Linked DNA regions of Homo sapiens. The protein of the gene in region 2 purifies or fractionates together with the protein of the main gene of each other region. This does not show direct contact. Each region holds a gene or a part of one and is shown on either strand. Other genes may lie near its edges. The genes, in order: PAK2 and SCLY.

Region 1 (3,465 bases), on a different chromosome or scaffold from region 2:
GGAAGGGGATGGTGGGAACAAAATGCCAGAACCAAACCACAGATACTTGAACAACACCCACTCCAAAAGCAAAACAATGAATAAAGGAGAAGAAGAGGAGAGGAAAAAAGAGAAGAGAAAAGGGAGGGGAGGGGAGAAGGGAGGGCACTCAAATAATTAATGCTACAGGTCTCAGACCTTTTAGAATCTTTAAAAGAAACAAATTATTGCTATCAACACGCACATTTCATTTTCCTTTCTCGTTTTTTACAATAGTCTCTACTTATTTGAAAAAACAAAACAAAACTAAACTAAAGTAACTCAACATCTCAAATGATCTATAAATTCATCAAGAAATACTCTGTCGCTCAAGTTCTCATAGATAATACCACACTGCTGACGACCTGGGGCAATGCCACCGCCGCCAAGTCTCTACAGTCGATTTGCTATCGGCTGCTTCTCTGTAACACTAACATTCTCTTTCATGAGTATAATCTCTTCTCACTGTATCAGAGCTCACCAAGGTTCACATCTCTTACTGCCTCTGCTGCTAGTCCCAAATATTTTTCTCCTTTAAGTGGAAAAAAGCTAATTTTTAAATTCCTGAAAATTCACTGGTTATTATATTATTTGCCATGGGAGGGGGTATCTGTGAGGTGAGAGAGGATTAATGAAAAAGAAAAAGAACAAACCTAAACCTAAAATTGCAACATATACAGAAATTTATTTCCAAATTGAAGGGGGAAAGGAGGGAAGAAGGTAGTGGCACTAACCAAAGTCACAAAGCCCAGGTTGGAACAACAACAAATCACTTTGGTTCCTAGAGCCAAGCCTGAAGGGGAAACAGGCAGAAGGGAAGACAAAATGGGAAGAAGTCTACAGTCAATGGGAATCTTTTTCTATCTCAATGATTTAGTTATAAATAGAGATTATTAGTCTTCTCTCTATACATGTAACAAATGCCGAACTTACTACCACGAAATTTCTAAAACTGACTTTTTCACATTTGTTAAAAAAGGTAAAAATCACATACTTTTCTTCCCTTCCTTCAGGTCAAGTTCTGAACTAAAATATTACATGTAACAACAGCTGGTCCTAACTTTTATACAAAGTGAAACTATATAGAGCTCCTTTGCCAACATAAGGAGCTACATAATTTCTATTACACTTGCCTAGGCATGAGAAACGCAAAAGCAACTCAAAAGGAGCAAGTCCAGGAAAAGAAAAGCTATGAAGGAGAGAAAGACTAGCAGATGAAACACATACTCTGAAAAACTCCAATCTGCCATTCAAGTATTGGAAATACCCCAAAGGGGACAATGAATGGGATCTATTACAACAAAGTCAGCAAAGTAAAATGCAAATCTCACACATGATAAATGGCCCTGATAGGCTGTTTGCTGAAAGACCTAAGGCTAGTGATTCAGTCCACAATTCCTTCTGGACCCTAAAGAAGGGGTTCATATAAAAGTCATACTTGTCTTTTTGCAATTTTCTCTTGGTTGTCTTCAGAGAATAGTCATTTGCTTCTTTCATTCAGGTTATGCAGACCATTTCTTTAAACCCCAAAAAGAGTAATAATTTTCATATACTAAAAGGCTTCTTGTAGAAAATGGAAAAAAGAGTATGAGGCCACAGCAGTGATGTTAACGGTTACTCTTCATTGCTTCTTTAGCTGCCATGATCAGTGGTGTCAAGCTAGATAACGGTTTGGCCAGTTTCAGGAAAGGATGCTGCCAGAAAGAAGGGGAAAAATAAATGTATAAGTGCCATTCATCAGGTTAGAAACAAAATAATTTTGTTCAATTAAGCCCCAAAGACTACTTGTCGATCATAATTTAATAAACTAAACACATATTAATACCTTCATAAGACTAACATAATCAACGCATTACTTTCAGAGTTGAATGAAAGCAGAATCATTTTAGTTTGACAAATATACACACAACAGCAATAAACAGGTCTGAGGAGTGATACGATGCACAAACTGTAAACAGGTCTGAGGATTGATACGATGCACAAACTGTAAACAGGTCTGAGGATTGATACGATGCACAAACTGTAAACAGGTCTGAGGATTGATACGATGCACAAACTGTAAACAGGTCTGAGGATTGATACGATGCACAAACTGTAAACAGGTCTGAGGATTGATACGATGCACAAACTGTAAACAGGTCTGAGGATTGATACGATGCACAAACTGTAAACAGGTCTGAGGATTGATACGATGCACAAACTGCACATTACGGTTTTGTCAGAATTTTATTCACAGCAGATGAAACCCTCACTTTTTTTTTTAATACTTTAAGTTCTAGGGTACATGCGCACAACGTGCAGGTTTGTTACATATGTACACATGTGCCATGTTGCTGTGCTGCACCTGTTAACTCATCATTTACATTAGGTATATCTCCTAATGCTATCCCTCCCCACTCCCCCCACCCCACAACAGGCCCCGGTGTGTGATGTTCCCCTTCCTGTGTCCAGGTGTTCTCATTGTTCAATTCCCACCTATGAGTGGGAACATGCAGTGTTTGGTTTTCTGTCCTTGCGGTAGTTTGCTCAGCATGGTAGGATGAAACCCTAAATTGCAGCAGCTGCCATACCGCTGGTGATCAATGAGTAGTGAAATCTACTTATTAGCCCTAGGAAAGCTTTCTGTCGGTTACCAAAAAAGTCAACTATTCCCCCAAATGAAATCATTTTTAAATTTACCTGTAATAATTCTTTGGCTGAACCCCTTTTTTCCACATCCATTTCCAAACATCGATTTAAGAAATCCCGAAATATTGGGGAAAGTTTCTCTGGATTCTGAAGTTCTGGGGTTCCATTAGTTGCTATTAGGTACAAGGCCTAAAAATAGAAGAACATCTTTGATCCACTTAAGATAGCTCAACACGGTCACAGAGCACTCCATAAAGTCTAAGGGATTCTTTCTTCTTTAAAGAAAATCACCATAAATACTAAACTGGGGTTATCATTATCCCATTTAAATTTAGATTTGATACTTTCCTCTTATTTTTAGATGTTACATTTCCTTAAGTTACTTTTCTGAAATCAGATTCACCTTTGGTTTTTCTTCGGTTATAAATGCAATACATATTGCTTTTGTTTTGTTTTTTTTTGTTGAGACGGAATCTTGCTCTGTCACCCAGGCTGGAGTGCAGTGGTGCAATCTTGGCTCACTGCAACCTCTGCCTCCTGGGTTCAAGTGACTTTCCTGCCTCAGCCTCCCGAGTAGCTGGGATTACAGATGCATACCACCATGACCTGCTAATCTTTGTATTTTTAGTAGAGGTGGGGTTTCATCATATTGGTCAGGCTGGTCTTGAACTCCTGACCTCAAATGATCCACCTGCCTCGGCCTCCCAAAGTGCTGGATTGCAGGTGTGAGCCACTGTGCCCAGCCCATATTGCTTTAAAAAATAAAACAATGTTAATAATTAAAAATAACCACAACCTCACCATTGACCATCCTGTTTA
Region 2 (3,820 bases):
GTTGCCTCTTCCTCTTCCGTCTCCGTAGAAGCAGAAAGGCACACAGCTTCCACGACACAGATTCACTGACTGCAGCCGCGTTAAAGACACGTTCACACTGAAGCACCTGACAGTGACTCTGGGCCAGTGATGATGGGCGGCTTATATTCTTCTTTATAGTCTTCTGAACTTGGACAACAATTTACTTTTATAGTTGTAGAAAACTGTTAAGCTCTGTTGGAACGCAGTTTTGAGAGGAATCAATTTGTGCAGCTCAGTTCGGTACTCATGTTTGTTTCCCAGCGGTCACCTTTGTCCCGGTGTCCAAGGTGAGCGGGCAGGCAGAGGTGGACGACATCCTCGCGGCAGTCCGCCCGACCACACGCCTCGTGACCATCATGCTGGCCAACAATGAGACTGGCATTGTCATGGTGAGTCGGCCTTTGTTTCTCTTTAAGGAGAGCTCATGGGGAAGAACAGCAGCTTAGACTCATGGCGTTTCAGGTTTCCCAGCTCTGGCCTCTCCCGTTTCTCTGTTCACTTTGATAACATTTGGCCTGCGCTCACTACTCCTGATTTCTGTCATTCAGTTTTCATCAGATCGGAGCAACATACTCAACTGTTTCCTTTCCCCGTCAGCCTGTCCCTGAAATCAGTCAGCGCATTAAAGCCCTGAACCAGGAACGGGTGGCAGCTGGGCTACCTCCCATCCTCGTGCACACGGATGCTGCACAGGCCTTGGGGAAGCAGCGCGTGGATGTGGAGGACCTGGGCGTGGACTTCCTTACAATCGTGGGGCACAAGGTAAGTCTGCAGAGGCTTCCTGCCTCTGTGGGCAGAGCCTACTGCGCAGGTGGCTGTTTACTCCTCGGTCCGTAAGCCTCACTGCCCACCGTGAGCCAGGCCTTGGGGGCACTGCGAGGAGCAACGTGGGATCCTTGTCCTCAGGAGCTTTAAGAGGGGAGCCCCACATGGCCAGCATGCCAGGACGAATGCCATGGCAGGGATGATGGGGGGGGTGCCCAGCCCACATGGGGCAGGGTGGGGGCGGTAGACCAAGCTAGGGGAGGAGACGTCGAGATCTCAGGGAGAGTAAGGCAGGGGGTTCGGCCAGGCAGCGAGTGTCTCTGCAGCGGACAGGGCATCTGCAGAGGGTGTGGGGTGGAAGATGTAGGGACAGGAAATCGTTGCTTTCTCTAATGTGATTTCAGATGCGGCTCCTCAGCAAAACCTTTGCAGCTATCTTTAAGGTGGGAGTATGGGGAAAATAGTTAACAGTGAAGACCCTTCTGAAAATTTTGCACATCTTTCTGGCAGCTTACCAGGGCCCGAGATATTTTTAGTACTCAATTTTGAAGCACAGTCCTCAGCTGGTTTCCAAAGGAGTGTCTATGCTGGCCTGACACTGGCACTCCAGAGTTCTGCATTGTGTCAGTTGGAAACATGGAATCATTTGCAGGAAAAGCCCTGGCCAACCGCTGGTTCCAACCCCTCTCTATTTATGCATTCTCTTTCTTTTTTTTTTTTTTAAACCTGTGATTCATATGATTTGAGATCCTTTTACAAATTCTATCACATGATGCGCAGGGGAGAGCTGCCTGCCACAGAGCTGAGCACGAGAGTCTAGCACCTGCGCTGCCTCCTAGGTTGGGGTTCCACCCTGCCCCGAAGGCTTTTGTGACTCTGCGTGTCAAAAGGGGTGGCACTCAGAGGCGCCACAAGGAAGCAGCAGGACTATGCATTGCAGAGCATTTCTCCTGTGTGCCCCTAAGCACTTAGCATGTATACAGAGTAGGTCCTTGGAAAGTTCTTGTTGAATAAATGACCAACTTTTCCTTCCAGTTTTATGGTCCCAGGATTGGCGCACTTTATATACGAGGACTTGGTGAATTTACCCCTCTCTACCCTATGCTATTTGGAGGTGGACAAGAACGGAATTTCAGGCCAGGGTAAGGCAGAAAGTTAACAAAGTCTCTGACCTACTGACCGTGTCATTTGTAGAGCAGTGACATTGTAAAGAAACATGGCGCTGTTTCTTGGTCTCGTGGAGGCTCTGTAGCATGTCCACACTGCTGCTGTGTCAGAACTGGCTCCACTGATTGATTTTACACTGAGGGCTCACAGGACCTGCAGTCTCTTTGGGAATGATTGAAAGCAATGAAGGAAATCTCTGTTTCTTTTAACTGCTCCAATGCATCCAATTCCCCTTGTAATTTTGGCCCAGCCCACTGAAGAGAACTGTTGGACCCTTCATGGCTGAGGCCTGCTGCTGTTTTAACTTCGGGGATCAGCAGGACCACACAGAAGCACTGGTCTCCTTTCTGATAGCTCCTGTGTCCCCTCTATGTATAGTGACGTGTTAACTGGGAAATTAGTTGTTGCCCCCACCACACCTTTTGTTAGAAACTACTTAACAAGAGAGAGAAACAGGAACAGCATGGTGGTGAGTTCCTGGGTTTTCTTTTCACCTTGTGTATCCCACACTTAGTGCTGAAGAAGCCGGCAAACCTGATATGCTAGTAAGGGCAGACACAAAAATGCCCCAACCAAAGCCTGTCCTCTCTAGCCAGTGGACCAGGAAAGGAATGGCCTAGCAAGACAGAAAACTTTGAGACAACACTTGCTTTACTCCAGCCAGATGCTACAGGGGAAATTGTGCTGCCACGCCTATCCACACCTGCAAAGATGGAGTGGGAAACCCAGACTTCCACCAATACAGGCTGTAACAAGGTATCCCACACCACCACCGGGTGTGTCAAGAAGGCCAGGTAGAGAACCGGGACTTAGGCACTCCCACCATGGTGTCAGTAGAGACCATATCGGGATCTTGGACCCACACCTGTCAGTCACAGGGAGCGTCCTCCCATTGGGTGTCAACATCAGCCAAGTAAAAAATCTAGATGTTGGCCAGGCACAGGCTCATGCCTGTAATCCCAGCACTTTGGGAGGCTGAAGTGGGCAGATCACTTGGGGTCAGGAGTTTGAGAGCAGCCTGGCCGAGATGGTAAAACCTTATCTCTACTAAAAATATAAAAATTAGCCAGGTGTGGTGGCGCATGCCTGTAATCCCAGCTACTTGGGAAGCTGAGGCAGGAGAATTGCTTGAACCCGGGAGGCTGAGGTTGCAGTGATCCGAGATGGCACCACTGCACTTCAGTCTGGGTGACAGAACAAGACTCTGTCTCAAAAAAAAAAAAAAAAAAAAAAAGCCCAGCACGGTGGCTCACTCCTGTAATCCCAGCACTTTGGGAGGCCGAGGCGGGTGGATCACAAGGTCAGGAGATCGAGACCATCCTGGCTAATATGGTGAAACCCCATCTCTACTAAAAGTACGAAAAATTAGCCAGGCGTGGTGGTGTGTTCCTGTAATCCCAGCTACTCGGGAGGCTAAGGCAGGAGAATCATTTGAACCCGGGAGGCGGAGGTTGCACTGAGTCGAGATCGCACCACTGCATTCCAGCCTGGGTGACAGAGAGAGACTCCATCTCAAAAAAAAAAAAAAAAAAGAAACCTAGACTTCTACTTCCACTTGGCAGTGATGGTGGCATACCCCTTCTCCTGCCAGCACAACGTCAGAAAATGGCAGCCCAAACAGAAAGATTGAATAAGATCCAGGTTCTCATAAAGTAAGGCAAAAATGTCCAGGTTTCAAGTGAAAATCATTCATCATACCAAGAACTAGAAAGATTTCAAATTGAATGAACAATAATAATCAATATACGCCTGCACTAAGATGATGATGTTAAAATTATCTAACAAATATTTTACAGCAGACACAGTAAAAATGCTTCAATGAGAAATTGTGAACACCCTTGAAACAAGTGAAACAAAGTGTCAGCAA

Evidence for each region.
Region 1: the proteins of SCLY (region 2) and PAK2 fractionate together in Homo sapiens (co-fractionation; one large-scale study listed by BioGRID). This does not show direct contact.

Annotation. Positions count from the first base shown.
Region 1 is NC_000003.12:196,826,566-196,830,030, reverse strand, and holds part of PAK2 (serine/threonine-protein kinase PAK 2), read right to left. Parts: intron 2,836-3,465; coding exon 2,698-2,835; intron 1,713-2,697; coding exon 1,626-1,712; 3' UTR 1-1,625. UniProt on the Homo sapiens protein: Serine/threonine protein kinase that plays a role in a variety of different signaling pathways including cytoskeleton regulation, cell motility, cell cycle progression, apoptosis or proliferation.
Region 2 is NC_000002.12:238,081,427-238,085,246, forward strand, and holds part of SCLY (selenocysteine lyase), read left to right. Parts: intron 1-282; coding exon 283-410; intron 411-618; coding exon 619-783; intron 784-1,821; coding exon 1,822-1,928; intron 1,929-3,820. UniProt on the Homo sapiens protein: Catalyzes the decomposition of L-selenocysteine to L-alanine and elemental selenium.